4 linked regions of the Homo sapiens genome follow. The protein of the gene in region 3 purifies or fractionates together with the protein of the main gene of each other region. This does not show direct contact. Each region holds a gene or a part of one and is shown on either strand. Other genes may lie near its edges. The genes, in order: LTN1, GALNT12, LAMP3 and XRCC3.

What was found.
Region 1: the proteins of LAMP3 (region 3) and LTN1 purify together in Homo sapiens (affinity purification with mass spectrometry; 2 studies listed by BioGRID and IntAct, with this or other methods). This does not show direct contact.
Region 2: the proteins of LAMP3 (region 3) and GALNT12 purify together in Homo sapiens (affinity purification with mass spectrometry; 2 studies listed by BioGRID and IntAct, with this or other methods). This does not show direct contact.
Region 4: the proteins of LAMP3 (region 3) and XRCC3 purify together in Homo sapiens (affinity purification with mass spectrometry; 2 studies listed by BioGRID and IntAct, with this or other methods). This does not show direct contact.

What each region holds. Positions count from the first base shown.
Region 1 is NC_000021.9:28,954,776-28,962,287, reverse strand, and holds part of LTN1 (E3 ubiquitin-protein ligase listerin), read left to right. Parts: exon of another isoform or gene 1-1,210; intron 1,211-1,581; coding exon 1,582-1,771; intron 1,772-2,590; coding exon 2,591-2,830; intron 2,831-3,748; coding exon 3,749-3,902; intron 3,903-4,811; coding exon 4,812-4,956; intron 4,957-5,339; coding exon 5,340-5,526; intron 5,527-7,512.
Region 2 is NC_000009.12:98,802,473-98,810,862, forward strand, and holds the start of GALNT12 (polypeptide N-acetylgalactosaminyltransferase 12), read left to right. Parts: upstream 1-5,197; 5' UTR 5,198-5,226; coding exon 5,227-5,597; exon of another isoform or gene 5,598-5,734; intron 5,735-6,592; exon of another isoform or gene 6,593-7,487; coding exon of another isoform or gene 7,488-7,553; intron 7,554-8,353; exon of another isoform or gene 8,354-8,365; coding exon of another isoform or gene 8,366-8,390. UniProt on the Homo sapiens protein: Catalyzes the initial reaction in O-linked oligosaccharide biosynthesis, the transfer of an N-acetyl-D-galactosamine residue to a serine or threonine residue on the protein receptor.
Region 3 is NC_000003.12:183,159,299-183,167,335, reverse strand, and holds the start of LAMP3 (lysosome-associated membrane glycoprotein 3 precursor), read left to right. Parts: upstream 1-4,601; 5' UTR 4,602-4,680; coding exon 4,681-4,729; intron 4,730-8,037. UniProt on the Homo sapiens protein: Lysosomal membrane glycoprotein which plays a role in the unfolded protein response (UPR) that contributes to protein degradation and cell survival during proteasomal dysfunction.
Region 4 is NC_000014.9:103,705,218-103,712,729, reverse strand, and holds part of XRCC3 (DNA repair protein XRCC3), read left to right. Parts: intron 1-1,068; exon of another isoform or gene 1,069-1,162; 5' UTR 1,163-1,264; intron 1,265-1,484; 5' UTR 1,485-1,642; coding exon 1,643-1,697; intron 1,698-4,070; coding exon 4,071-4,208; intron 4,209-5,514; coding exon 5,515-5,727; intron 5,728-7,512. UniProt on the Homo sapiens protein: Involved in the homologous recombination repair (HRR) pathway of double-stranded DNA, thought to repair chromosomal fragmentation, translocations and deletions. Part of the RAD51 paralog protein complex CX3 which acts in the BRCA1-BRCA2-dependent HR pathway.

The sequences.
Region 1 (7,512 bases), on a different chromosome or scaffold from region 3:
AAATTGCAGCATTTACAAAGCCCAGTAAATATTAAGCCCAATAAAACAAGGTATGCCTGTACATTATGTTGAATTTCTTATCTTGCTAACTCGAGAGGCATTTTATTCAGAAGTTTATTTTGTTTACCAGGATTCTGCAGAATAGATTGGTTTTACTTGGCAAACTACACTGGGAAAACAGGTATCACAGCCATCTAAACTCTAAAGTAGTTTTTCTTGTTTTATGGAACCTTAATACTTTATGAGCAGAGTCTTAAAATCATCTTTTTTTTTTGAGACAGAGGCTCACTGTGTTGCCCAGCAGGCTGGAGTGCAGTTGCAACATCTCGTCTCACTGCAACTTCTGCCTCCCGGGTTCAAGTGATTCTCCTGCCTCAGCCTCCCGAGTAGCTGGGATTATAGGCACCTGCCACTATGCCCAGCTAATATTTGAATTTTTAGTAGAGACAAGGTTTCACCGTGTTGGTTGGTCAGGCTGGTCTTAAAGTCATCTTTTAAAAAAACCATCAATTAAAAAACAGATTTGAGTTTTGGAACCAGAAAAGGACCTTAGAGATTTTCTAAGTTAATCTTTCCAACTTTCAAATTAGGAGATAGGCCCACGCTGATTAAAAGATTTGTCCAAGGTCATAGGCTAGTTAGTGATAAAGCTTGGACTAAAATATAAGCTCTGGTTACCTACAATTTTTAAATAAAAGGATAAAGTTTTCCAAGCACTACCCAATCTGCACTTGGATTTTTTTTTTTCTTCCAGATTGCTTTGAAATGAACCAAGTTGCAAATTCCTTACTTCTCAGCCCTTAAAGCAAAAGAAGCTCTGGGAACATGGATCAGCATGCTTTAGGGGTGGATTTACAGCTTTTTTTTTTCTTGCTTCCCCACCTCATGAAAATAAGTTGCTGTCAGATATCTGGCCCTAGTAACTCTATATCAGAGAATTTGGGGAAATAAATCCCATTGTTCATATTGAAGTAATTTACCATTATTATACACTAATTGTTCTTTAATTTTAGCAAAATTAATGAACAAAAATTTATAGAGCATTTATAAATCTATCTTCAAAGTTTATTCATTATTCATTGAACATATCTACAGTGTTGATAGCAGGTATCAAAGAAGTTTAAGACAGTCTCTACTCTCAAGGAACTTACAATCTCATTGGAAAGACAAGATATACACAGATGAAACATTTAAATAATTATACAATCCAGTAAGTGCTTTAGAAATTCAGAGAAAAGCAGTGATCATTGTGGGCTGGAGTGGATGGGGAGACTCCATAAAGTAGGTGGGATTTGTACTGATTTTCAAAGAATGGATGGGATTTTAAGTTAAAAAAAAAAGGGGGGGGTGGGGGAATATTTATGGCTGGGAAGGTAACAGCAAAGCGTGGAAGTGAACATCATACAGGCTTAATGGGGAACAGGGAGGATACCAGTCTTCCTAGAACTTCAGGAGGAGGAGGAGGGGGGATAGAATTGGAGCCATGATAACGAAGGGATAGTAATATGGTACAAGTAATATTTTGGACAGAGAGAGTATTTGATCTTGCTGTTAATCTTTGCTTTAATTTTATGGTTTTAGGCATGTCCTAGTTCAGATAAACATGCTTTAGTAACTCCTTGGCTCAAAGGCGATATCCTTGGTGAGAAATTGGTCAACTTGGCAGATTGTCTTTGTAATGAGGACTTGGAATCCAGGGTATCTTCAGAATCTCACTTCTCAGAAAGATGGACTCTTCTAAGCTTGGTATTATCCCAACATGTTAAAAATGGTAGGACAAATATGGCTTTTGTTTTCTAATGGGGAATAGTCCATTTCTCCTTTGTGGGGGATTGCATGGGGCTCAGCTTATGTGTTATTGGTTAAAAATAACAGGACTTACTCATTCAAATTTTTTTTTTTCTTTTCTTTTCTTTTTTCTTTTTTTTTTTGAGACTGAGTCTCCCTCTGTCGTCTAGGCTGGAGTGCAGTGGTGTGATCTTGGCTTACAACATCTGAGTTCAAGTGATTCTTGTGCCTCAGCTTCCCAAGTAGTTGGGACTACAGGTGCATGCCACCATGCCTGGCTAAATTTTATATTTTTAGTAGAGACGGGGTTTCGCTGTGTTGGCCAGGCTGGTCTCGAACTCCTCACCTCAGGTGATCTGTCTGCCTCAGCCTCCCAAAGTGCTGGGATTACAGGCGTGAGCCGCTGCGCCCAGCTCATTTACATATCGTAATATTGTAAGCACCCTAATTGTTTATTAATCTTCATACCATGACTTAGAAGATATTTAATATTTTTAGTTCTATATCCTAAAGGGTTTTTTTTTTTTAGCTCATAAAGTTGACTCATGACTTAAAGGGTTTTCAGTGTACAAACTTGCTCACCCTAACTGTAGACCATTTCTGTTTTCTACTTAATTTAAAACTGCCTTTTTTACTTGAGGGCCTTTATGTGTGAGAGAATGTGTTGATTTGTTGATAAAATTTTGTCTAATACATTTTAAAATCCAGGAAAGACCCATAGAATTATTAATCCAAAGTAAGATATTTAAAAATACACGTTAATATTTTTATTTTTTGTCTGTTTGAACCTTTTTTTCTCCAGATTACTTGATTGGAGACGTATATGTTGAAAGAATCATTGTTAGACTTCATGAAACTTTATTCAAAACAAAGAAATTATCAGAAGCTGAAAGCAGTGACTCATCAGTGTCTTTTATCTGTGATGTGGCCTATAACTATTTCAGCTCAGCGAAAGGATGCTTGCTAATGCCATCATCTGAAGATTTATTATTAACTCTCTTTCAGTTATGTGCTCAGAGCAAAGAAAAAACACATTTGCCAGGTAATAGCCTACTGCTCAAATGTTTTGTTGGGAATCTCCGGCTCTGACCTTCATAGTGAGTGTAAGTGCCCAGGCTTTATTAATTGAATTATAATGTGTTTGAAAGTTTAAAGCATTTTGAGTAAAGGGCTACAGTCTTAAACACTTTCAGCTCTAGAAAGCAAGTTAAAGATGTACGTAGATGTTATTTCTAAAGATCTCACTTGATATTCAAAGAAATTTGGAATGAGCCATAATTGATTAGGTGGAATCTTAGTCCATTCAGTAGTTCTGGCATGTTCCTTAATTTCTTGATGTCTTAGTTTCCTCATTTGTAAAAGGGGGATAATAATATCCCTTTATTATAGTAAAAACATTCAATCTTTGGTGTATATCAAAATAGAATTGAAATTATCTTTTTAAGGACTATATTCTTGCCTTATATGCTAATTCAGACTTATTTGTGAAAGGAACATAAAAAAATACTATCTATAGAGAGCTCTCCTCCTCCCACCCTTCATTCTTTCCTTTCTTTTTTTCTTTCCTTCTTCCTTCCTCTTTCTCTCTCTCTTTTTTTTCTGCCCATCATTGGCTACCAACCCTTTCTTAAATACTAACTTCTGTATTTGGAAATGGTGTAATAATTTTTTTAAAAATGTCTCCAAAAGGACAACTCTTGTAAATAAGTTCAAGCATAAAAAATGTAACTTTAAAAATCTTACCATTTTACATTTATATGATACGTGCTAGCTTGTATGATTGCATGTTTATGACACAGTTGCTTTGTTTGGCAATTGAATTTTGAATGGCAATTTAAAATTTTTCTTTTTTAAATGGTATTTAAAAAAATCTCAGATCTGTAGAGTTGTTTCAAACATTTTGTGCTGATGAGAGTTAATTCAGTGAGATTACAAATTCCTGTTGACATCTTGATTTTAGATTTTCTTATCTGTAAACTGAAAAATACTTGGCTCTCTGGTGTAAATTTATTGGTTCATCAAACTGACAGTTCATATAAAGAGAGTACCTTCCTACATTTGTCTGCTCTGTGGCTGAAGAACCAAGTTCAGGCTTCATCTTTGGATATCAACAGGTAACCTTTTTTGAGCTTGGTTTCAGTGTCTCTTTTATACTTGAACAGTGTCCTTAAATTAGATTCCATGATCAGTGTGAGTGCCTATGAAAAATGACTTGTAGGGCTCGTCCCTATAATCCCAGCTACTCAGTAGGCTGAGGTGGGAGGATCAGTTGAGACCTCCAGGAGTTTGAGACCAGCCTGAGCAACATAGTGAGATGCCATCTCTTAAAAAAAAGAGAAATGAAAAGTGACTTGTTAGGTAACAAATCTACAGGACTCTTATGAAAAGACCCAAACGAATTTTTCCAAAACCATTTTGTTTCAATGACCATCCATTTAAACTGCCAGTTAATTGAAGGATAATTTGCTATAACATACCTGCTGGACTCATAACTTATAGACAGTAAAGTGATGGTGATACTATCCTTTGTCATAGGCTGGTGTGCATTGTAGCCTCTCATGGTCACCACATGTACTGATTGTTCTTGGTTATTTATTTTTTGGGGACAGGTAGGCAGTGTTTTAAGATGTTGAATTGCAAGTATATTTTACCTCTCATACCTAAATCCATATAATAAAGGAGAAGAGAGAATGCATTTAGAGGATATTGGGTTTAGGTAAAATAGTGCTGCATTTCATAAGGTAGCTGTATTTCTGAAATACCTGGTCTGAAATAGGTCAGGTCCTCTTCATTCTGAGATAGATAGGAAGCAACACTAGATTTCAAATGATAAATATTGGATTACCTCCCCAGTTTGACTGTTATGTTGGTGTGTCATCGGTGGGGGAATGTCACTTACCTCTTTTTATTTTCATCATTTCTTTTTGTTCAGGTGAGCTATTATAGGGTATTTAATATGTATTGGGGTATTCAAACTAGTCATAGCGTAACTACAACAGTTAAGTTCTCTGCATTATTTTTAGTCTCCAAGTCCTCTTGTCTGCTGTTGATGATTTGCTAAATACACTTCTAGAGAGTGAAGATTCTTATCTTATGGGAGTTTATATTGGAAGTGTAATGCCGAACGACAGTGAATGGGAAAAGATGAGGCAGTCTCTTCCTATGCAGGTATTTTGGAAATTGAAGAGTACATATCTCATTCTGAAGTTTGGATTTCATGCAAGCTTGAATATTTTTATTTTGGGGAAGAAAAACATAAATAAAATGAGTATTTTGCTTTGCTTTGATGTCTTTGTATGCTCATATACTGGATGTTTGCTTTTTGCAAGACACCATTTGACAGTGGCAGTGGGCATGGTACAAAGACTTAGGACCTAGTTCTGTACTTAAGGAGTCTTAAAGAAATACACATGTTGATAATTTCCTGTAAAAGAAAACAAACTTCTAGGTTTCTGTGGTTTTGGTAATAAATATTCTCACAACTTCATTTTTGTTCAGTCTCAATTGCTTAGGTAATAAATAATTTTGTATATAACGTATTCTTTTCACAGTGGTTACATAGACCTCTTTTAGAGGGAAGATTGAGTTTGAATTATGAATGTTTCAAAACAGATTTTAAGGAACAGGACATAAAGACACTTCCCAGCCATTTGTGTACTTCAGCATTATTGAGCAAAATGGTCTTAATTGCACTGAGAAAGGAAACAGTCTTAGAAAATAATGAGCTTGAGAAAATAAGTAAGTATATATGAGTATTTACATATAACATAATGCATGAATGAATATAATTTTGAAATAATCTTGATTATACTGCAGTTTAAATCTTTAATTCAAGAATCTTCAGCTTTCTTTTTCCTATTTTAATGATGAGAACCTTGAAGTTACTTAAGTGGTGAATGTGAAATTGCAAATTAGATACGAATATATTGGAATCTTGCTATAATCTTGTTAACTGTGGATCGTAATTTGGTGTTAGCTACTCAGGCTGTCATGACATCAATGTAAACAGATCCTGTGGCACATACCCTAAAGAAAATGGGTGAGGCTTTGGTGTTTTATCAAGGATTCAGAATTTTCTGTTGATTAAAAAAAAATTGATACCTGATAATTTTACATATTTATGGGGTACATGTGATATTTTGATATATACATAGAATGTGTAGTGATCAAATCAGGCTAAGCAGGATATCCATCACCTCAAACATTTATCATTTCTTTGTGTTGAGAACATTTCAAATCTTCTAGTTATTTTGCAATATAAATCATTGTTAACTATGGTCATCCTACTGTGTTATTGAATACTAGGTCATATATCTTCTCTCTCACTGTATTTTGGTACCCATTCACCGACCTCTCTTCATCCCCTGCTCTCCCTGACCCTTCTCAGGGTAACCATCAGTCTACTATACTATTCTATCTTCATGAGATCCACTTTTTTAGCTCCCATATACAAATTAGAACATGTGATGTTTGTCTTTCCGTGCATGGTTTATTTCATTTAGCATGATGATGTCCAGTTTCATCCATGTTGCTGCAAATGACAGTATTTCATTCCTTTTTTTTTTTTTTTTTTTTTTGAGACAGAGTCTCGCTCTGTTGCCCAGGCTTGAGTGCAGTGGCGCAATCTCGGCTCACCACAACCTCTGCTTCCCAGGTTCAAGTGATTCTCCTGCCTCAACCTCCCAAGTAGATGGGACTACAGGCGCACACCACCATGCCCAGCTAATTTTTGTATTTTTGGTAGAGACGGGGTTTCACTATGTTGGCCAGGCTGGTCTTGAACTCCTGACCTCGTGATCCGCCCGTCTCAGCCTCCCAAAGTGCTGGGATTATAGAAGTGAGCTACCGTGCCTGGCCTCATTCTTTTTTTAATGGCTGAATAGTATTCCATTGTGCATATGTACCACATTTTATATATCCATTCATTCACTGATGGACACTTAGGTTGATTTCATATCTCAGCTATTGTGAATAGTGCTGCAGCAAATATAGGGGTGCAGATATACCTTTGATATACTGGTTTTCTAAATATTCAATGGGATTGCTGGATTGTGTGATAGTTCTATTTTTAGTTTTTTGAAATACTTCCATATCGTTTTCCAAAATGGCTGTACTAATTTGCATTCCTACCAATAGTATATAAGTTCCTATTTCTCTGCATTCTTGCCAGCATTTGTTATTTTTTGTCTTTGTTTTTTTAGAGATGGGGTGTTACTATGTTGCCCAGACAGGTCTTTATCCTGGGCTCAAGCAATCCTCTTGCCTCAGCCTCCCAAAGTGCTGCGATTACAAGCAGTGCCACCATTCCCAGCTTATTTCTTACCTTTTTGACAAGAGGCATTCTAACTGGGGTTTTGATTTGCATTTCCCTGATGATTACTAATATTGAGCATGGGATTTTTTTTTCCTTTCTTGCCGTTGAGTTGTTTGAGTTCCTTATATATTCCTTATGTTAGCCCCTTGTTGGATGAATAGTTTGCAAATATTTTCTCCCATTCTACAGATTGTCTCTTCACTTTGTTGATTGTTTCTTTTGCTGTGCAGAAAGCTTTTAGTTTAACATAGTCCTATTTGCCTGTTTTTGTTGCCTTCGCTTTTGAAGTCTTAGCCATAAAAATATTTGCCTAGACCAATGTCCTATAGCGTTCCTTGATGCTTTCTAGTTGTTTTATATAGTTTCAGTTCTTAGGTTTAAGTCTCTAATCCATTTTGAGTTGATCTTTT
Region 2 (8,390 bases), on a different chromosome or scaffold from region 3:
AGAATCAGATGCCTAGATGTTTGTTTGTTTGTTTGTTTTCTGGGAAAAATACCTACAAAGGACAAAGAGGGAAAGTGTGTAATCCCAGCATTTTGGGAGGCCGAGATGGGTGGACCACTTGAGGTCAGGAGTTTGAGACCAGCCTGGCCAACATGGTGAAACCCCATCTATACTACAATACCAAAAAAATTAGCCAGGTGTGGTGGTGCGTGCCTTTAATCCCAGCTACTTGGTAGGCTGAGGCATGAGAATCGCTGGAACCTGGGAGGCGGAGGTTGCAGTGAGCAGAGATCACACCTCTGCACTCCAGCCTGGGCGACAGAGTGAGACTCCGTCTCAAAAAAAAAAAAAAAAAAAAGAGGGAAAGGGGAAAGTCGGGGAAAAGGGATGGGGAGCCCTCAGACCATGATGCAGGTCTGATACTTGAGAAAGGAGAATGGGAAGTGACGAGGGAAAGTCTCAGCCAGGCAGATGGGGGATTCCCAAGCACGGGTTGTGTCCTATATCATGCAGATGTGGCCAGGTTCTGGTACCACACCATGCTCGGTCACTGACTGGGAGTAGCCAGAGGATACCACAAAGGATCCAAAGGCATAGCCACTGGGAGCTGGCAGTCAACCGTGTTTCCCCTAAAAGTTTCTCCCAAAGGGTAATCTGAGCAATGCACCTCATTTCCAACACAATTCCTTTCAACCAACTTTTTTAAATTAAAATTTTTTCTTAATTTTGAATTTTTTAGGCATGGTATCTTGCTTTATTGCCCAGGCTGGAGTGTAGAGGCTATTCACAGACACCATCGTGGTGCACTGCAGCTTCAAATTCCTGGGCTCCAGTGATCTTTCTGCCTCAGCCTCCTGAGTAGCTGGGACTATAGGTGTGTGCCACGGTACCAGGCTCAGCCAGCATTTACTAAATACCTTCTGTGTGCTAGGCATTATGTGTGTTGAATGATAGAAACATGGCCTCATGGCTCCCAGGAAATCCCACATGACTGCAGAACAGTGGGGTCTATGAGTTTTCATCGTCAATTCAAAGGAAGATGTCACAGTTTGGAGGATGCCACTGACAGCTTCATGGCAGAGCTTGGCTACAAGTTGGGCAGAAATGATGGGTGGGGTCTAGGTCGTTGTAGGAAAAAGGAGGAAACATATTGGAAGGAGAGAGCAGGGGGACAGGAGGACCACAGACTGACAGAGTGGATTAGGCAGGAGATAAGGAAGGCTTAGAAGTAAAATAATCTCGAAAGAGTACAATATTTACTTTAAATGTCTTTTTTTTCCTAATAAGGTAACGATTGTTTTAAAGAATTCTGATGTTGTAGAAATATAGAATGTAAACTCCTTGAGATCAATGGCTTTGGATATTGTTTACCTCAAATCCCCAGAATCTAGCACACTGACTCCCAGATGGTAGGTGATCAATAAATATTTGTTGAAAAAAAAACAAATAAATGGAACAAAAGTGAAAGGACCACAGAATCTCACCCATCAGAAGTAAATATAATATAGTTAATGGTTTGGTAAATATTCCTTTAGATTTTTTCCCCTTTCATATGTTAATATATATTATTTTACAAAAATAGGATCATACTATTCATATAGCTCCACGACTTGCTTCTCTTTTCTTTACAATGCATCTTGAACACATGTGTATGTTAAATGCCTACAACTAACTCATGCTTGCAAATAGCACTGTGGTATATTATGGTATTGTACGGATGTGCAATATTTTATTTTATAATCTCTTGATGGAAATTTGGATTGTTTCCAACTTTTTGCTTTTATATACAATACTGCCATAAGCTTCCTTGTATGCATATCTTTTGAGCACTTACGAGTCTATGTTTGTTGGATAGATTCCTAGATGTGGAATTGCAAAATCAAAAAGATGTTAATATTAACATTTCTAATAAATGTTGCCTAATTGCTTTCCAAAAGGTTATACTAGTTTGCATTCCTACCAACAGTGGATGAGAGTGTTTTTTCACATCCTTGCCAACACTGGAATTAATAGCCATTTTCATTTTTGCCAGTCTGATAGGTGAAAAAATATTTCAGGGTAGGTTTATTTTGTATGTATTTTAGAGAGATCGAGCATATTTTCATACTTTTATAAACTATTTATATCCTTTTGGGTGGGAACTGTCTATTTAAATCCTTTGACCATTTTTATTTCTGTTTGTTCTCTTTATTTCCCTATTGATTCACATACTGGGTAAATGTCATCTGCAAATATCTCTTTCTGACTTGCCTTTTGTTTCTGGACTTTGTATTATACTGGAAGCCTTACAGAATTCAAAATTTTTATATAGTCACATTTAGAAATATTTTCCATATGGTCTCTGGTTTTTCTCATTCAATACTTTTATAATTAAATTCCTTCCCTTCCCTTCCTTCCTTCCTTCCTTTTTTTGCTTATTTACTGTGGCATCTTCAGATCATTTGGAATTTATTTTGATGTAAAGTGTGATGTTGGGACTTGATTTGAATTTTTTCCAAATGGTTATCAAGTTGTCCCAATTATTACTTGAATTAGGCACATGTTCCCCACTAATATTTGAAATACCACATCTACCATAGATCATATTAAACTCTAAAAGGAATGTAATAACTCCTATGAAGAGAGCTAATATGACAAATTAAAAGCATCTTCTAGAGATATCTACTTGTTGGTGAGCAGCCGATGACATAACATGGTACTGTTAGTGAACAGATAAGCCCCCTAAAAATAGCAATAAACCCAAGGGCTTTACCTCTGTTGAAAAGATGCTAGATTTCCAACAAGCTCCCAGGTGGTACCAATGCTTCTGGTCTAAATATCATACTTCACTCAGCAAGGTGCTGGACATCTTCCCTTTGCCTTACTGACACTCTCTCCACTCTGTTTTGTGCCCCGGGAGGCTGACTGTGCAGACTGTATCACTCAATCTTCTCAACAACCCTGTTCAGGTGGTGCTATCATTAGATCACCATTTAATAGATGAGCAAATTGAGCCGAGATAAGTAAAGCAACTTGCCTGAGGTCACACTGCAATTCGTGATGGGGCTGGGTTGAGCTCAGGCAAGTGGGCTCCAAGGTTGTGTTCCGACCTCCTAAGCTAAGCTGCCTTTGCATCTCATTGCAGCCTGCCCAACAGTGAGTGGTGTGGTGGGAAATCCTGGACTGTGAGTCAGGAGACCCAGATACAAATCCTCCCTCTACCGCTTGCATGTTGTGTAACCTTGGGCAAGTTGCTTCACTTCTTGAGCCTACATATTCTCATCTGTCAACCTTGCAAGGTTGTCATAGGGTGAAATGAGAAAGTACATGAAAAAGAAAGTCCAGCAGTTTACAGCACACAGTGTGTGCTCAGTAAACAATAGCTTTTATCTGTTACCTGGGGCTTAAGTCCATGTCTTGTAAGGCCTAATTGCATTTCTCTTTTCTCTGTATCTGAACCTCTATTGAGAAGCATTCCAATTTGGCAAGCGGATCCAAGACATTATGAATTGTAATCCTTGTCTGTTTTCTAATCTGACCGCAGATCTTAAATGTGTTGGGTGTCTGAACAGAGGCCAAAGGGCTCAGGTCCAGACCTACCTAACACAACCGCCTTCTGGCATTAACCAGCAGCCTCCATTCTGCGTGGGAAGCAGGCGGGGCCCTGAGCACTGTGGGAAGAGCCACTTCCCTCTAGTCTAATATTAGCAGCAGGTTGTCCTGAGTGGGAGCTGCTTTGCATGGTTCATCCCAAAACCCACCCCCCTCCTGCAACCTGAGGGAGATTTCCTCTGGGGATACCAGTAGCCAAAGGCTGTATGAAGACAACAGCAAGTCAGATTCTACCTCTACCTGAGCCGCCAAGTTCAAGGTCCTCTCCCCACCCTGTGTCTCAGACCCCGCATTTATCAATGAGATAATTGGACCAGATTTGTGCTTTTTAAACTTTCTGGGCTTCTGGTCTCCTTGAGAATATTTGATAAAAAGCTTTGGACCAACTTCCCATGGTAAAACAAACAACAACAAATAGAGCTTACACTCTATCCTTCTACAGGGGATACAGAATGATTCTTTTCCCTGAGCTAGACACCAGCAGAGGGAGTTCCAGATTAATTTAAGATATGATTTGAAATCTCTGCTATCACTTTTACATTCAGATATCTGTGTAGACATTACTTCATCAGAGAAGCTTTCCAAAACCCCCAAACTAGATCAAGTTCTACTATTCTAAGCCCTTTTAGCGCCCTGTAATTCTTCTTCAAAATACTTAACACAATTCTAATTATCTTTTTAATATTTGTCTACTCCATTAGACTTACTTCGTCCCTGGCAGCTCAAGGCTCCCACAGCAGTGATCTCATGAACAGGGCGGCAGCTTCATGGCCTTTTTTGGTTGTTGTTTAATAGAAACAGGATCTCGCTTTGTCATCCAGGCTGCAGCGCAGTGGCGCATAGTTCACGGTAACCTCCAATTCCTGGGCTCACACAATCCTCCTGCTTCAGCATCCTGAGTAGCTGGCACTATAGGCACGTGCCACCATGCATGGCTAATTCTGAAATTTTTCTGTAGAGATGGGAGTCTTGCTATGTTGACCAGTCTCGTTTTAAGCTCCTGGCTTCAAGTGATCCTCCTATCTCGGCCTGGGATTACAGGTGTGAACTATCATGTACAGCCTTCATGGCCTTTTGCTCCTAGCCTCAGAGGTCACAGAGCTATCACGAGGCGAGCCAGGCGAGGGTTTGCTATTCAAGGACTCCAAAGAGTATGGCAGAGGCTGGGCCTGCAGAAGTCAGTGGGGCAGCGTGGTGTCTGTTGATCTCATCGCACCTCCATCTCCTCATCTGTAAAAGGGAGCTCGTAATCCTAGTTGATGGTTGTTTTATTGGACTGTGTAAAGATCAGATGAGATAATGGCAGTAGAATTCATAACACCCTGCAGGGTGTATTCAGCCAACACTTAGCGCCTACAATATGCCAGGCGCTAAGGGTTTTACCACCACTATCTCTTTAATAATGCACCATAGCCCAAGAAGGAAGATGCAAGTCTCAGCCAGCCCACTTGAAGACCCTGCCGAAATGAGCCACCCCGGGGGCTGCGCTTGGGCTGGCGCGGGGCTGGACGGAAAGGGGGCGGCGCGCAGGTGGGGCGGGCCGGGGGCGGGGCGGCACGGCGGTTCCGGGATCCGGGTCCTGGCCTCCACCGCCGCCTTGGGGCGCGCAGATCGCTGGCTGCAGTTGGCGGGCGCATGTGGGGGCGCACGGCGCGGCGGCGCTGCCCGCGGGAACTGCGGCGCGGCCGGGAGGCGCTGTTGGTGCTCCTGGCGCTACTGGCGTTGGCCGGGCTGGGCTCGGTGCTGCGGGCGCAGCGTGGGGCCGGGGCCGGGGCTGCCGAGCCGGGACCCCCGCGCACCCCGCGCCCCGGGCGGCGCGAGCCGGTCATGCCGCGGCCGCCGGTGCCGGCGAACGCGCTGGGCGCGCGGGGCGAGGCGGTGCGGCTGCAGCTGCAGGGCGAGGAGCTGCGGCTGCAGGAGGAGAGCGTGCGGCTGCACCAGATTAACATCTACCTCAGCGACCGCATCTCACTGCACCGCCGCCTGCCCGAGCGCTGGAACCCGCTGTGAGTGCACAGCTCTGGGGAGGAAGCCCGCCCTCAGAGCCCCGGGCCTCAGTTTCTCCATCAGAGCAGTGGCAGGGCGGGGAGCTGGGGTCTCCAGGATGGCGCGTCTTATTGAGTCTTTCTCCGAAGACGATAGTGTAAGAGCTCACATGGGGGCGGGGAGGCAAGAAAGTAAAAAAGACGAAAGTAGAAAAAAAATTACCAGAAATTGGCAAGTCTGTTAGTGATCTCTTAGCTCCCTTCTCCTTGAGAAGTTATCATCTCCCTGAAAAGGTGAGGGTCAGGGCTAAGCAGAAGGGTTTAAGGCGAGGACCCCCCAGCACCCAAAGGACAACCCCGCTCTGCCCGCCTCGCAGTGCCTCCGCGAAACTGACAACTCCTCCGGGCGGTGACCGGCTCCATTCATTCTCTGTGTGTGCCAGGGCCTAAGGGACAAACAAGATGCGAGGGAGCGCCCCACAGGTGAAGCGAAAGATGGCTGTAAGGCCCCCTCAGCGCTAGAAAGCCTCCTTGTGCTCTCCCTGGGCATTGGATTTCTGAGCTTTGGGTGGAGGAAGGCGGGAAGGGGCACGGGGTGGGAAGGGCTCCTTCTGGCCGTGATCCACCCCAGCTCACTCCTGTGGGTGGTGCTGGACTGGAGCCAGCGTGGTCAGAGGCCTAGTTCCTGTTGGAGCTACTGGCTGGGCAGGTTGCGCCCCTGCCTAGGTGGGGATCCAGGGCACACGCTGGCAGCAGGAGGAAGGACAGGTGGCTGCTGCCACCTTTGCCGCTGGGCCTCCCGGGCTCTCACTTTTTCTTCGAAGTGTCAGGGATCTTCCAAGTCCTTTTTTGAGCCCCTTCCTTACAGACTTTGAGGAAAAGAGGACTCAGAGAGGGGGTTCCCATTGGAGCTGGTGGTGGCAGCCTGCCGTGTGCACCAGGCACCTGCCACTCCTCTCCCCTTCAAGCCATTCCTGCTTTACAGGTGTGGAAATAGGTTCGGAAAGGATAGGTGACCCACCCAAGGCCCCTCAGCTGGAATGTGGTAGGACTGGTCTGGAGGGACTATGGCCCTTCTGGCCCACTTGGCACCATGCTGATCTCAGGATTTTAGGGGCCTGCTCCATGGTACCTTGGCCAGAGAGACCATGAATGATGGAATGAGGATGCCCCACCTCTGCCCCACTGTTTCCACTGTCTTCCCTGTTTTGGGGATCTCCTCATGCCTAGCCTCATGCTTCTGCCTGAGGCATTTTTCACTGTTAGTCTTTTTGAATAAAACTTTGTTGGGATTGATAGTAGTTCCTCCACTCACCAGCCTAACGCATGTTTAGCTCCTCGAAACCCCGAGGGTGCCCGCTGAGGCAAGGTGGAGGGGAAGCTTTCAGGTTATACCCAGCTTCAGATTAAATCCAGCCCAGGGGAGATAAAATCCTGGTTCTTTTGCTCGTCACTTCTGTGATCTCTGGCAAGCTGCTTAGCCTCTCAGAGCCTTGGTTTCCCTTCGTTTGCGAAATAGGAAACTCATAAAAGTGAGTCTCCATGCATTCTACATAAAAGTGAGTGGAAAGAACACAACTTAGGAATTAATAAAGCATCAATACCTGGGAGCACACTGTGTGCTTAAATCTTAGTTTTTTCACCTTTCCCTGTTGCCAAGAATGTACTCAAGAGGTTGCTTTTGAGAGTCATCCAGGGATTGGTTGTAGTTTTTCTTTCCTGGATCCAACTTCCTTTATTGTCGCAGGTTGTGAATATCTCTTTGAAACACTGTGGACAATCTGTGGGGCTTATGGTAACCTGTCTCCATGGTGACGCAGCTGCCCTGTGTCCTCTCAGGATTTGCTTGTAGATCCTGCTGTTGCATTGACCCTGGAAGTTAAGCCAAACCCAGCATGATAAGGAGTGTGAATGCCTCCTGCTTCTAATTCCTGCAGCAAGGCCTGTTGGGTTATTCTTACCCAGCCAGAGAGAAAGGTGAGCCTGAGCTGTGTGGGTCTCTGTTGGGCCAGGCTTTGAGATGTAACTTCAGAGTGGTCAGTAGGGTCAGGGTATTTTGTGGCATCTCACTTTTATTACAGTTCATCCAGGAGCTAATCAGGGTCTTGAGATTTTGCCTGAGAAACCTGAATGGCAGATCATAAGTTCACAGTGTGGGTATGGGGTTCTCTGCGAGTCTAATAAACAGAGGGATAATGAGGGTCCTTGAATGTTGCAGGAGGGAGGGCCCTGAGGGAGGAGCATCTAGTCTAACCAGAGAGGAAAAGCCACACCCCCAGGTCACATAGCACATCTCAGGCAGAGCCACAGTCCATATCTGTTACTCGTTCCTCCCTTTTTGGGTGGGGATGATTATTTCTATGTTTATTTTAATTATGAAAGCAATGCATATTCACTCTAGAAATGTTGGCATGCACAGAGAAACAGAAAAGGAAAAAAATGAAAATCCCCAATAAACCTACCACTCAGGGAGAACCATTGTTAACATTTTGCTGTGCCTCCTAGACTTTTAATGAAAGTCTTTACTCTGCAGTGCCTTTTATCAGAGGAAAGGAGTTGGGAATGACTAAGGGACCACTTGGTTTGACTCTTCCTGGTGTCAGCAGGGTGTGGCACTGTGTCTGCCTTCTTGAAGAAGGCCAGACCACTAAAAAGACATTTTAGAGTACTGGTCCTAATTCTGTGAGAGCCAGTATAGACCTGGGCCCCTCTATGAATCTAATAATTTACATGCCAGTGGATTCGAGTATAGTTTTGTTAGTTACAGCACTGAATTGAAGAGGAGGCTAATGATGACTAGGAATCCTTCCTTGC
Region 3 (8,037 bases):
CCAGGTGCAGTGAGAGGCACCTGTAATCCCAGCTACTCGGGAGGCTGAGGCAGGAGAATCGCTTGAGCCTGGGAGGCAGAATTTGCAGTAAGCCGAGATCACACCACTGCATCCCAGCCTGGGTGACAGAAAGAGACTCTGTCTCAAAAAAAAAAAAAAAAAAGGAAAAAGAAAAAACCAACCCGGCTGACACTTTGATCTCACATGTCTGGTTTCCAGAATTATAAGAAAGCAAATGTCTGTGGTTTAATTACCCAGTCTGTGGCACTTTGTTATGTCAGTCCTGAAAACTAATGTAACCAACCATAGTCTTGGTCAAAAAACAAATATCAATAAATTTGTAAGATTTAAGTCCATAATTATGTTTTCAACCACAGTGGAATTAAAAATCAATAAAAGAAAGATATCTGAAAAACTATATGTTTGGAAATGAAATAATGCTATTTTAAATAACCATGAGTCGAGGAGATAGCAAAAGGAAATTAGGAAGTCTTTCTAATTATATGAAAATGAAAACATATTAAACTTGTGGGATCCAACTAAAGTAGTAATTAGAGGGACGTTCATAACAGTAAACCTGTTTATTAGAGATGAAGAAAGATTTTATACCACTGGCCTCAACTTCCATCTTTTTTTTTTTCTTTTTTTTTTTTTGAGACAGAGTCTAGCTCCTGTCACCCAGGCTGGAGTGCAGTGGCGTGATCTCAGCTCACTGTAACCTCCACCTCCCGGGTTCAAGCGATTCTCCTGCCTCAGCCTCCCGAGTAGCTGGGATCACAGGTGCCCACCACCACACCCAGCTAATTTTTGTATTTTTAGTAGAGACGGAGTTTCACCATGTTGGCCAGGCTGGTCTTGAACTCCTGACCTCAGGTGATCCTCCCACCTCAGCCTCCTAAAGTGCTGGGATATCCCAGGCAAGTTCCATCTTTGAAAACTATTGAAAGAGGAGCAAATAAAACACAAGTTAAGTAGAAGAAAGAAAATAATAAAGATCAGGTAGAAATGAATAAAACAGAAAACATAAGAACAATGAAGGAACTCGATGAAATGAAATTTTTTTTTTTTTCTTGAAAACATGAATAGAATTGATCAACCTCCAGCCAAACTTATCAGGGAAAAAAGAGAGAAAATACAAATTATTAATATTAGCAGGGAAATAAGAGAGAAAATACAAATTATTAATATTAGTAATAAAAGAAGTGACATCACTACCTATACTACAGATATTGTAAGACAAGGGATTGTTATGAAAAGCTTTATGCTAATAAATCCAACAACTTAGTTGAAATAAAAACCTTTTTTTTTCCTCTTCTTTTCTTTTTTTTAGACACAGGGTCTGGCTTTGTCACCCAGGCTAGAGTGCAGTCGCTTGATCGCAGCTCACTACAGTCTTGACCTCTCAGGCTCAAGCAATCCTCCTGCTTCAGCCTCCCAAGTAGCTGGGACTACAGGCATGTGCCACCATGCCCAGCTAATTTAAAAAATTTTTAATAGTGGCAGGGTCTCCCTGTGTTGCCCAGGCTGGACTTGAACTTCTGGCCTCAAGTGACCCTCCCACCTTGGCCTCCCAAAGTGCTTGGATTATAGGCATGAACCACTGTACCAGCCAGAAAACGTTTTTTGAAAATAATAAACTATGATACTGCGATATAATAATATATCTTTGGTCTCTGTCCCAGTTTCTAAGACAGAGCTCCTAAAATCCTTATATGCCAGAGTTCTAGGAGAATCTTTTGTTTTAATACTTGGTCTTTGACCCTGGTTCCTGAAACAGAGCTCCTAAATCCCTTGGAATTTCCAGGGTAAGAGGAGCAGCTTTATTTTATTTATTTTTTTTTTTTTGAGACGGAGTCTCCTTCTGTCGCCCGGGCTGGAGTGCAGTGGCGCGATCTCCGCTCACTGCAAGCTCCACCTCCTGGGTTCACACCATTCTCCTGCCTCAGCCTCCCGAGTAGCTGGGACTACATGCACCTGCCACCACGCCTGGCTAATTTTTTTATATTTTTAATAGAACTGGGTTTCACTGTGTTAGCCAGGATGGTCTCCATCTCCTGACCTCGTGATCCGCCCGCCTCGGCCTCCTAAAGTGCTGGGATTACAGGCGTGAGCCACTGCGCCCGGCTATGTGCTTAAAATCCTAGACTCTCAAGGCAGACAAGATTTATGGTCAGGTTTCGGTATTTATTATCTAAGTGACTCTGGGCAACTCCCTTCTTTGTGCTTAGTTTCTCCATCTGCGAAATGGGGCAGCGATAATAACAACAGTGTCCATATAGAGTGGCTATGGCGCTTAAATGGAATAAGAAGAGTGCCTGGCACACAGTCTATACCCACTTAATTATCGTCTTTTGAATAAACTGTCTCAAAGATCAGAAAGCAGGTAGTTGCTGAAACTAGGTTGACTGGCACAAGTTAACCCTCACTTTTCACCATAAAAATTCCATTCTGAAACACACTGCAAGCTTTGGTTAAGTTTACTTGATTAGTGTTTGGAGCAACATAGTAAGACAAAATAGTTGTAGCCAAAGTTATTTTTCAGAAAATAATTTGAGGCTAGGCTGAAAGCCCTCAATCTAGTGATAAGGAGGGTCTCCTAATATACTGCTTAAATGTGTATTCCCCACTGGGACTCAAGCCCTGTCAAAACATCGTTGTTTTGACAGACAATCCAATTAATAGAGGAAGGAGATAAGACATTAAAAGGTTGCCTGTCAGCGTTGTTGAGCCGTGGGCCGTGGCTTACGCCTGTAATCCCAATGGTTGGCTAACGCAGGAGGATCATTTGAGGCCAGGAACTCGAGACCAGCCTGGGCAACACAGCGAGACCTCCTCTCTACATAAAATAAAATAAAATAGCTGGGCGTGGTGGCACGCGCCTTTGGTCCCAGCTACTCAGGAGGCTAAGGTGGGAGACTCACTTGAGGCCAGGAGGTCGAAGTTGCAGTGAGCCGAGATCACGCCACTGCACTCCAGCCTGGGTGATAGAGCGAGACCCTGACTCCAAAAAAAAAAAAAAAACGATATTGTGTGTTTTTTGTTCCAGGATTTTCTGGTCTGTAAAACCACCTGGGGCCAGGCACAGTGGCTCACGCTTGTAATCCCAGATCTTTGGAAGGCCGAGGCGGGCGGATCACCTGGGGTCAGGAGTTTGAGACCAGCTTGGCCAACACGGTGAAACCTGGTCTCTACTAAAAATACAAAAAATTAGCCGGACGTGGTGGCGCACATCTGTAATCCCAGCTACTGTGGAGGCTGAGGCAGGAGAATCGCCTGAACCCAAGTTTGCAGTGAGCCGAGATCACGCCATTGCCCTCCAGCCTGGGCGACAGAGTGAGACCCTGTCTCAAAAACAAAAACAAAAACAAACAAACAAAAACAAAGAAAGAAAAAGAAAAAAGAAAATAAAAAAACACACTGGGAGTGGGCATTATTATGTCCGTTTTACAGCTGAAGAATCCAAGGCTCCTAGAGGTTCCCCGACGCCGCACGCCGGGGAGTCGGCAGCGCGAGCTCCCAGCCAGACCTAGCGCCTCTGGGCTGTGCTCCTGTTGCTTCCCGCAAACCGCGGTCCTGGCGAGGCCTGGGCGTGGAGCGCGGCTGCCGCAGACTCCCTGGGAAGACATGGAGTCAGGGTGCTTAGGGGTTTTTAGGCTCCTGCTCGCCTAGTGGCTGGCTTTCTCCCGGCTGAGAAGCGTCTCTGGGTTCCCAGAAAGGTACCCGAGCTGTTAGAAAAGAGGAGACCCTGGGCCGGGCGCAGTGGCTCACGCCTGTAATCCCAACACTTTGGGAGGCCGAGGCGGGCGGATCACAAGGTCAGGAGATCGAGACCAGCCTGGCCAACAGGGTGAAACCCCGTCTCTACTAAAATACAAAAATTAGCTGGGCGTGGTGGCGGGCGCCTGTAACCCCAGCTACTCGGGAGGCTGCGGCAGGAGAATCGCTTGAACCAGGGCAGTGAGCCGAGATCCCGCCACTGCACTCCAGCCTGGCGACAGAGCGAGACTTTGTCTCAAAAAACAAAACAAAACAAAACAAAACAAAAGAAATAAAAAGAAAAGAAATAAAAGAGGAGACCCTGGCCGGGCTCGGTGGCTCACGTCTATAATCCCAGCACTTTGGGAGGTCGAGGCGGGCGAATCACGAGGTCAGGAGCTCGAGACCAGCCTGGCCAATATGGTGACACCCCGTCTCTACTAAAAATACAAAAATTAGCCGGGTGTGGTGGTGCATGCCTGTAATCCCAGCTACTCGGGAGGCTGAGGCAGAAGAATCGCTTGAACCCGGGAGGCAGAGGTTGTAGTGAGCCGAGATCGCGCCACTGCACTCCACCCTGGGCGACAGAGCGAGACTTCGTCTCAAAAAGAAAAGAAAAAGAAAGGAGGAGACCCAGGGTATGAGCGGAGGAGGCCGGCGCTGCCGGGACCACGCGCGTGCGGTAAACGGTCCCAGAGGCCCGGGCCCCGGCGGCTGCGCCGAGTCCCCGCCCCTCCCTGCTCCGTAGGGGTAGGAGGGGGCCGGCGGAGTTTCCCTCCCCGCCCAGCGGCCCTGGGCGGGCTTTTCGGCTGCTTCTCATAAGCAGGTGGTTTCGTTTCTCCGGCACAGGTAGGTTTCTCTGGCACCGATTCGGGGCCTGCCCGGACTTCGCCGCACGCTGCAGAACCTCGCCCAGCGCCCACCATGCCCCGGCAGCTCAGCGCGGCGGCCGCGCTCTTCGCGTCCCTGGCCGGTGAGTGGCCCTCAGCGCTTCCCGCGGTGGCCCTGACGTGTCGGTCCCCTTTCATCTAAACGCACTCTGGAGTCCCGGGCGCCACAGGACGGGCTGCGGGTAGGGAGGTGTGGCGCGTCCAAGGGCTTCCCAGCTGGAACTTGTTTTCCGTGAGTTACTCAGAGCAGGTGTCAACCCCAAAGACAGTGACACTGTCCCTCGCTTCCAAAAGGGTTCTGGACACCTTCTCAGGGAGAGTTTGTAGAGGTCACTCGGATTTAAGAGATGGAGACCTGAGCTAGGGTTTAGGAATGGGAGTCTTGGCTTTGTTATCCGGGAAAAGCGCTCCTGTCTTGCTTTTCCTTGCATCAGATGTGGTCTGACAGATTGTGCCATTTCAGAAAGGTGTAGGAAGAGTGTCAAAGACTTTTTTTTTTTTAAATGATCATTGTACTTCCCATCCCAGATGCCGTCTGGGACGCTGAGTTTATGATTATTTTATGATCCGACCCTCCGCTTTCTCCAGAGCTTTTCCCCCTAGACATTGAGTCCTCGGGTGCTGTGGTGTTGTCCCTGTGATGAAGTTTCCTGGTTACTCGAACGTCATGAGAGAACTGTCTCCGTCCCTACCGCCCGGCTAACATGCTCAAGCAGGGGGCGCGGTGGCCCTTGCTTGTAACATGAATGCTAGGAATGTTAGGGAAGAGGTGAGAAGGGTCGTGCCAGCTGCCCTTGCCTAGGCAGTTCTCCCCTGCGCCACACTTTCACACTTACAGTTTCAGGTTCTTTTAGGGGACAGAAGAGGAAGTCATCATCACGCTCCACAGGGCAAGCTATTAAAAAAGCAAAACAATCTCAGCCTAGCGGTAACCCACAGTGACCTGTATGTGAGCGCTCCTTGAATGGATGGATAGGCTCAGAAACACAATGGTATTGACAGGCCAGGCGTGGTGGCTCACACCTGCAATCCCAGCACTTTGGGAGGCTGAGGCCGGCGGATCACTTGAGGTCAGGAGTTCGAGACTAGCCTGGCCACCGGTGAAACCCCGCCTCTACTAAAAATACAGAAATTAGCCGGGCATGGTTGTGGGCGCCTGTAATCCCAGGTACTCGGGAGACTGAGGCAGGAGAATCACTTGAACCCAAGAGGCGGAGGTTGCAGTAAGCCAAGATCATGCCACTGCACTCCAACCTAGGTAACAGTGAGACTCTGTCTCAAAAAAAATAAATAAATAAAAATAAAAATACAGTGAGTATTGACAAATGCAAGGGCAAGTGGAGAGAAAATGCCCACATTACCGGTTCCTTTCTGAGCTACAAATTCTCAGAGGTGAGCTAGGTGAAGGATGCATCAGAGGTTTCTTCCTCAGAGGTGGAGGCCTTTGAGGGGTGGCACGGAACTGGATTCAAACCCTTGCCCTGACCCTTCCCAGCAGGGAGGCCTTGTTCACATCACCCAACCTTTCGGGTGCTCAGTTCCCTCACTGAAAAATGGGGAGAATAATATCCTCTGCTAGGAGTACTGGGGAAACAAATGAGGTAGCACCTGGACAGCAATTACTGCAGTGATTTTGCTCAGTGATGTTAACTCGTATCTCCTGTTTGTCCCTCCAGTCCCTCTCCCATTCACCTCACAACCTGACCTTGAGCCCCTTCTTCACTCAGTACAGGGCTCATCAGCACATGGTAATTAACAATGATGGACATGGCTTCCTGGCACTCTCTGCATGCCAGGCACTGTTCGCAGTGCTTTAATCCACAAAACAGCTTTGTAAGTACTGCTATTGTCTCCGTTTTACTTGCGAGGAAATAGAAGCACAAAGAGGTTAAATAACTTGCCCCTGATCACATAGCTAGCTGGTGACAGAGTCGAGCTTTGAACCAGAGTCTGTGCCCATAGCAGCTAACCTATGTGCTTTACTCATACATCTACTTACCTATAACTTATTTAGTCTCATAAGAACCCTGAAAAGTAGGTGCTATTCTTATCCCTATTTTACAGATGGCGGTACTGAGGCAGAGGCAGGTTAAGGAATTGTTCATGGTCTCCCAGTTAGTGAGTAGCATTCCTGAGACTGGCATTCAAGACATCTGGCCTTGGCTGGGCACAGTGACTCACACCTGTAATCCCAGCACTTTGGGATCCTGAGGTGGAAGGTCGCTTGAGGCCAGGAGTTTGAGACCAGCCTGGACAACATAGTGGACTGTGTCTCAAACAAAACAAAACAAAAACGAAGTCTGGCCTTGGGGTTCAGGCTCTACGCTACTGTGCTACATGATCCTGCATGCATAGGCTCAAGAAATCCTTGTTGAATTGGAAATGAGCAAAAATCATCAGAAAGTTTTGCTAGGAGAGACGGAGCTTTTGGGTAAACTCTCTGAGTAATCTTTACCCAGTCAACTTGCTTCCCTGATCTCAAATTTTTCCTCCAGAAAATGAGGGGATTTAAGTTCACGTCAGTTAAGTTTAGGTTCAGTTACACGTAAGACACAAGCCAAAATAACAGTAGATTAAACAAGATAGTTGCTTGTTACTCTTTCATGTGAAAACATGTCCAGAGAAATTCAGGTCAGTTCTAGTGTGGGAGTGCTTCACTGGAGATCCGTCATTAGGATCCGACATATAGGTATGTGACTTCTACCCTCAAGGCCTCCTCACGGTTCCACATGTTGGCTGGAGCTCCAGCCATCACATACAAGTTGCAGGTTGGTCAAAGGAGGAAAAACAGAAGGGCTGTAGAAAGGCAGTCCACACAGGTGATTGAGCTGCCTTCACCCAGCCTTCCCAGAAGGCCCACATGATCTTAACACTTCCCTTCTTTTGCTAAAACTCAGTCATATGCTCCCACCCAGCTAGAAAGGAGGTTTAGACATAGAACTCTTTATTCCAGGCAACAAGTGCTCAGCTGAAACTTGAGGTACTGTTAGAAAGAAGGGGAGACTGGGTTTTGGAATAGTCAGCCAGCAGTCTGTCACAGGGATAGTGGCCCTTCTGCTCTAGGATTTCCTTGACTCTCTCTGCTGCACCCTGCTGGGGCTGCTTCTGCTGCCCCTAGAGGTGCCAGAAAACATGCTGGGGGCTAAACTGTGATTCCCTGAACCTGGACATGGCCGTGGGGCTCCAATGACTCCCTGACTGTGCTCCTCAGAGCTCTGCAGACAGTGTGTAGTCTCCAAGGCCTGCCAGGCCTGCTCCCTGCTGGTCTCCCCTCCTCACCCCTCCCTTCCCATACCGTCCCTGTGTTCCCGTCATGCTGACCCCTTGCTGTTCTCCAGACATACAAGACTTCTGAAGCCTCTGCGCCCTTACACATTCTCTTCCTCCTGTC
Region 4 (7,512 bases), on a different chromosome or scaffold from region 3:
GTATCCAGACCCAGCCTGGGACAGCAGCCTCCCGACAGCCCCCAGGCCCAGCCTGTCTGTGACAGTCACGCCTGCTCAGGGAACCATCCCTCCGTGCAGATCTGGGCTGTGTTTTGGGTGGTACCTCGGGTGTGGGGTCCCCTACCAGGTGCGAGGTTCATACTCCCCAGGCTGCCTCCTGTCCTCAGGGCTTGGAGAGTCCCATGTTCTGAAAATGACCTCTTTTCGAGCCGGGCAAGGCCGCATCTCCTTTGGCAGTGTAGTGTCTTCCCTGGAGGTGGCATTCCTTTTTGATTTGCCTTCTGTGCTTGGGAACCTCACTTCCTCACTCTGGCCAGCTCTGCCAGCAGTTTGGAGCTGGTTCAGCGCCCCACCGCCCTGCCTTGGCCTGCGCCCGGCCCTCCAGGGTGGCTTCTCGCCAGTTCCTGTCAGGCCTGCCTGGGCAACCAGGCCTGGGCACCTCCCTGTCCCTTGCTCAGAAAACCCACAGGCTGTGGGGGCCCGGGAGCCAAGCCTGGTGCGCGGGCAGGAAACGCATCCTGGAGCACCAGCTTCCCTGCCCTGCCCGCCTCACGGGGTGCCTGGGGGCGTGCCTCAGCCTGCTGCTCCTGTAGTCTGTTCCTGTCTCCCTGAGCAGGCTGAACATGGGCATACGAGTGACCAGCGTGATCGTGTCCAGGCCAGTGCCGCATTCTGTGTGGTCCAAGGGAAAACCTTCTCCAAGTCCACGGCCCGCCCTTTCCTCTGCTGGGTTACGGCCAAGGGCGCCAGGCCTCACTGGAGGACATGGATCCTGGACCCGGCCCTCGAGGCTGCTGCCTTCCAGTTTCCCCATGTCCTGGACACTCTTGGTCTCACCATTTGGGAGGCCGACAGGGGATGCAGAGTGGCCTGTTGGAAAGGCCTTATGTGACCCCAGGCTGAGTCCCTGAGCAGCCTGCTGAGGCCGGAGGGGAGAAGAGCTGAGCTTCTCCCTTGCTGGGCCAGGCTCGGGCTGTGGAATGGCTGCCAGCTCCCTTCCTGGGAGAGGCTGGGTGGGGTCCACAGCACCTTCCTCCCGTCCCACAGGAAGCTGTCTTCTGCTGTTGGCTGCTGGGGGCGACTGATGTTTGGATCCCTGAGCACCCTGCCAATCCCAGACTCACCTTCCCACTCTTTCCAGAGTCCCCAGGGAGACACTTAAGGGAAATTAAACTGCAGAGTGCAAGAGATGCCTCAGTCAAGTCAGCCAAAAACACGCGGGTCATCCCCAAGCCCCAGAGAGGTGAGTCGGGCAGGGCACTCAACTGCTGCAGGAGGATGGTCTTATTTCTAGCACTTTCCACAGGAGGTAAATGTGGTGGGTTTGGGGGGTTTTTCAAATGCATCAGTGTCTGGAATGGGTTCTAAGCTGCTAAATAATTCTTAGAGGTAAATGACAGACATGTTGCCCTAGATGTAGCTAGACAGCCTTCCCTCTACAGTGAAGTCTCCTCCACCCTCAGTGACAGAGCCCCGATGACACGGACACCTCGGCTGCTGTCACTTCCCTGGTTCGGGCCTCCCACAGGCTTTGAATTGAAGGCGAGTGCCTCAGAATTTGCATCCATTGTTCTGTCTTTCCTGGGAAGTTATTCATCCTGGTGGCCAGCCCACCGACAAAATGGATTTGGATCTACTGGACCTGAATCCCAGAATTATTGCTGCAATTAAGAAAGGTACATTTATTTCTATTTACATAAAGGGTGTGGGTGGGTGTGTGCAGTTTATATAAGGCAGGTTAACAAAACGCTGGCTGGCTAAGCCTTCCTTCCTTTGCCTACCCTGATTATTAAACCGAGGGCGGGATGTACTATGGGATTTTCAGGTGTGTGTGTGTGTGTGTGTGTGTGTGTGTTCTTAACTACATGGATTTCTTTCAGTTACTTTTATTTTTATCAAAGTAATACATGCATATTGTCTAAAAGGTAAAATGGAGCCACATAAAGTCTTTTAGTTTTTTTTTTTTGGAGACGGGGTCTCGCTCTGTCACCCAGGCTTGAGTGCAGTGGTGCGATCTCAGCTCAGTGCAAGCTCCGCCTCCCGGGGTTCACACCATTCTCCTGCCTCAGCCTCCCGAGTAGCTGGGACTACAGGCGCCAGTCACCACGCCCGGCTAATTTTTTTGTAAATTTAGTAGAGACAGGGTTTCACTGTTTTAGCCAGGATGGTCTTGATCTCCTGACCTCGTGATCCGCCCGCCTCAGCCTCCCAAAGTGCTGGGATTACAGGCATGAGCCACCGCACCCGGCCGTCTTTTAGTTATTTTTTTAAAAAATATTTACATCTGGGCTCCTAAACGTGTTTATGTTGTAATGTTTGATTTGTCAGTGTTACTGATTATCCATGGACTTCTCTTGGGGGCTGTGAGGACTGAGCGTGCCTACACCTGTGTACCCCAACTTCCTCTCCCCCCAGCTCCCTGCCCATACTTAGAACCTAGTTTGGGTGACATCAGCTGTCAGGGTTGTGACTGGGTGCATACTGGCCATTGTTGAACCTGGTGTGGTGGTGCAGGGGATGGTTTTCTTTCTTACAGCATCTTTTTTCGCCCGAGTTAGTAAATGCTCAAAACTCAGGCCCCACGTGCAGCCCCTGCCCCCTGCTCCCCATGCCAGCCGCCTGGCTGTCATCCGGGGACCCTCCTGCCAGCTTCCATCCTCCCCCGTCTCCCCGGGCCTCAGCTACGTGAACCTCAGCACGCTGTCTGTGGCGAGAAGCCGGAGTGCTCATGGAGCTGCCGCAGCAGCCTGGTGACAGGGCAGGGCCTCGCTGTCCTGACCCTCCATCCTTGGCTGTTGGTTTTTATCCTCCTGTTGGTGGCCTTGTGATCACAGCTGCTGCCACAGCTGCAGACACGACGCTTGCAGACCAGGGACAGAGAAGGGCTCAGCCAGGGAGTTCCTTTCTCACCTGTGTCTCTTATCCAAAAACCAATGTTTCCAGAAGTCCCTGCAGACTTCACGGCTGTGAAGGGGGCTGGGGCTGTGAGGCTTACCAGGGGGAGCGCCCTGCCACAGCCCCGATCCCGGTGAGTCCTCAGGGCCCACAGAGCCTTCTGGAGCAGCCTGTCTGCGGGAAGCCCCCTCCGCTGGATCTGGTGAAACCCAGGGGCGCTTTCTTCATTCCCACCCTTCCATCTCCTTGTGTTTTCTGTGTGGCTTTTCTGAAGATCACACCAGTGCTTACTGTTTTCCAGCCGCACAATGGTTGTCTTTTCACTGCAGCGTTCAGCGCACCCGTGTTGAGGGGGTTTCTGATGTGGTGGGTGTAAGTCCCCGTGGCCGGGTGGGGCGCTTCGTCCACCACTGCTCCCTCTCGTGTGCGCTTCCTCGCACTTCCCTGATCGGCTGATCAGTCTGCAGCATTTGTCGTCTTTCTACAAGTTTGAAATTAGAAAGTGATGCACTTATCTGAGTCCAAAATTAACTTCCTTGCCCTCCTCCCCAGATGGCAGGTCCTGGGGATCTGCACCCCTGTAACTGCTGCCACCGCCGTTCTGATTCGCACATGCTCTGCCCCCTGCCCTGACTGCCCTGCGCAGCTGGCGTTTGGACCTGGGCTCTGCTACCCTCCCAGCGCTCCCCTCCCCAGGGCACATGTCCTCTCCCGCGGCTCAGCCCAGATCCATGCCTGGTGGGCGGGTGGTGGAAAGCTCGGTGCTGGTTTTTTCCTGCCCCCTTCTGGAGCACTGTCTCCAGCTGGCATGGAACTGGGTGCCTGTCGTTTCTTCTCAGTACCGGAACCTGCTCTCAGCACCGGGACCTGCCCAGCCCTGTCTTCTGGCTTCTGCCCCAGCTCACGAGGCTGGTATCTGTCCGAGTGCCAGGACTCAGGGCGCAGTGTCCAGCAGCCCTTTCCTCGTGCCTGTGCATCGGCCACACTGTGTCCAGGGTTTCCAGGGAGCAGGGGATCCGGTCCCTACCCACCTTGTCCCCAGAATCGGAAGCACGGTGCTCTCACAGTGCTCTTAACAAAGCACCTTTTGTCACTGTGTTGCCCTGCGTTGTGACAGTCTGACATTTTCCTGTAATTTATCTGTGTTATTTCAGCCAAACTGAAATCGGTAAAGGAGGTTTTACACTTTTCTGGACCAGACTTGAAGAGACTGACCAACCTCTCCAGCCCCGAGGTCTGGCACTTGCTGAGAACGGCCTCCTTACACTTGCGGGGAAGCAGCATCCTTACAGGTAGGTGGGCCCTGGCATCTCTGCCAGGGGTGACATGTGGCTCCAGCATCATGGTCCCAGTGGTGCAGGGCAGGGGCTGTGCAGACTTCACCCAGGGACCAGCCTCAGGGCGTGTGGCAGCTGCTCCAGCCCCAGAGTTCCCATCTTGCTTGTCCTACACCCATGGGGCTGTGGTCACAGCATCGGGTCAGAAGATGCGTGAGGTGGACACGGGCTGTGGGACCTCCTGGGGACCTTGCTCCATGGACCAGAGGAGGGGGTGCAGGAAGCAGGGGTGGATTTGGCAGTCAGCACCCAGAGCCCTTCAGGCTCTGGCAGGGTGGGAACGGTGTGAGATGGGGCCCTGGCCACGGTCCCACCACCACGTGTGGGAAACCAGGTCTCAGCAGGGGAAGGAGGTACCCAGGGAACCCCATGCGCCTGGACGGACAAGGTTTCCATCCCTGCATCTCAGCAGGCCCTAGTAGGCAGCGGGGTCCTGGCATGAGCAGGGCCCTCTCTCCCCTGCAGGTGGCTCAGTGGCCCAGGCCCCGAGGAACGTGCTGAACTTGGGGCTGCCGTGGTGGGCAGGTGCCACGGCCACACACACGGTGCTGTGGGCAGGGCTCTGGGCAGGCCTCACAGTCAGGGTGGCCTGCTCCACCTGGACGGGGTGCCCAAGGCAGTGTGCAGACTCCAAGGGAGGGGCTGCTCCTCCCGGCCCAGGCCCCAGGCCAAGAGCGCAGCCTGCACCGCATGTCCCACCTTGAGCCTTGCCCTGAGGGGCTTCGGTGTCGTGGAGGAGGCTGTGTCAAATGGCTCATCCAAGGCCCTTTAGCCAAGAGGCTGAGACCAGCATTGCTCCAGAATGGTATCTGTCACAGAGAACTGACGGCATGTGGTGTGCATGTGTGCGCGCCTGCGGGAGCCCATTAAAGCCGCTTGAGAACTGTTCAGCACCCCAGGGCATCCCAGCTGGACAGAGCTGTGCCTTTTTCTTCACATGGAGGCTGTTAGGGAGCGCCTCGGGGCTCTCTGGAAGCTTTGGCTGAAGGCGTCTGGTGCTGCAATTGCCCCATAGGGGGATCCCTGCGGGCATGTGATGGTGGCCCTGGGGCTCCCCCTGACTCTGCATCTCAGGTGCACCCGCCCTTCCCGGCTGGGCCCCCCTCCCTGCCCTCAGCACCTTGCTCACCCCCATGACCGCAGGCACCTGTGCTCCAGCCACACTGCACCTGGCACAGGCAGGCTGACCATGCCTCCCGCAGTCCCCAGCCCTGCCCGCAGGCCCAGGAGAGTCAGGCCTGACACTATCCCTGCCCTTTAGCACTGCAGCTGCACCAGCAGAAGGAGCGGTTCCCCACGCAGCACCAGCGCCTGAGCCTGGGCTGCCCGGTGCTGGACGCGCTGCTCCGCGGTGGCCTGCCCCTGGACGGCATCACTGAGCTGGCCGGACGCAGCTCGGCAGGGAAGACCCAGCTGGCGCTGCAGCTCTGCCTGGCTGTGCAGTTCCCGCGGCAGCACGGAGGCCTGGAGGCTGGTGAGTGGCCACCCCTTCCGTGGGGTCTGGGCAGGTGGGCGGCCCCTGCTTTGTGTGGGACAGCTTTCCGTTGAGGTGGGGCAGTGGCCGCCTCTTGCGCTGTTCCTACCATTGCGTCTCCCTCCTTCTCACCCTGATTGCCCTCGCTCCTTCCAGAACAGGGAGGGGGAAGTGAGGCTGGGCTCAGCTGACAGCAGGAGGGGTGGGAGGGTACGAACCCCACCACCAGGCAGCCGGCCCTCAGCAGAGCTAGGCCCCCAGGGGTCGCTGGCTGAGCACAGCGATGCCGGCCCACGTTCCGCACAGCTGCCAAGCCCAGAGTCCACAGAGCCAGCAACGCAGGGAGGGCAGCACAGCCTTTCCCCGGGTGCCCCGCCGCCAGGCCAGGTATGCTCCTGGCGCGGCCCCGTGAGCCTGTACGCTCTGTCTGTGAAACGAGGGTTCCCTGCATTGGACTAAAGCGTTCAGAGCATGCCTGCCTGGGTCTCTCAGGTGTTAAAAGTTCACGTAGTTTTAAACTGTGAGCTGTGAGGAGGAGAGATGTTTCTCAGTAGCTCCTTAACTTTTAAACTAATTCCCTGGTGTCAACATGCGATTCCCACGTTGTCTTAAACTCCACGTGAACAGAGTGGCAGTATTTTTTCATCGGTGGCACCTCCGAGCACATCTGCTAGGCTCACTTCCCACACAGGGCCGGACCCCAGGCCCTGGACCCACAGGCCCAGCCAGCCACCTCCTCACGGGCCTGACCTGCCAGCAGCGGTGTGGCTGGGAACCTCACCTCTGCCACCCTCAGGTCAGCGTCATCCCCAGGACCCAGGGTGTGCTGTGCCTGCCTGAGCTTCAGTGCTGGGTGGAGGGTGAGGGGTCTCCTGAGCCTCCGTGTCGGGTGGAGGGTGAGGGGTCTCCTGAGAGCCCAGCTGGGGTCTGCTCACGCCACAGGCATTTTTGTCCCTGCAGCCCAGGGGAGGGCACCCTCTTGTCAGGTGCCTGAGTCCCTGCGGCTGGTCTTGGGGATGAGCCTGGAGACAGCCAGAAGCCGGGAGGACAGGAGTTGGCCTTGAAAATGGGAGTCTCCCGCTTACCGCACGGAAGAGCTGCTGTGAGGTGGAGGCGGGACTCGAGCGTGCTCAGGAACGGGACGGGAGCCGCCCTCATTCTCCAGCGTCCTCCGTGCCAGGCTTCGTGCAAATCTGATTTGTGCAATGACTCCCCCTCAGCTTCCACCCCGTTGGCCTTTTCAGTGAAGCCCACACTCCCCGATACCCAGGGACACAGAAGCCTTAGGACACCCTCCCTGAATCCCCCAGCTGTGCCCAGCCCAGTGACTGCTGCGGGATGACAGCACAGTCCAGCCTTGCGGGCCAGGGGAAGGGAGGGGGCCCCACGGCCACCGTGACCACATGCAAGGTTAGGGGTCAGATGTGCTTTCCTGGGGAAATGACTTCCTTTCCTGGATCCAATCTAAAGGCCCGAATTTTGAAAAGAAAGCGGCAGGCGGGCTCTGAAGTGATTCCGACTCCCGTGCTTAAGCCGCGTGAGGCTCTCCCAGGCCTGCTGGGGCCCCGCCCACCGCTGGGCTGTCCACAGCCACCCTCCTGCCAGCTTCACGATGTCCCCATGACTGTGCAGCCCCTACATAACGTCACCCCAACAAAAACACGCTGCTTGACCGGTTCCACCTGCTTCCGAGCCTTCCAGCCCAGCCTCTCTCCAGCCAACAGGACGGAGGAAGCCCAGGGCCCCGACCTTCCTGTGGCTCCTGACTAGGGGCACAGTCACTGC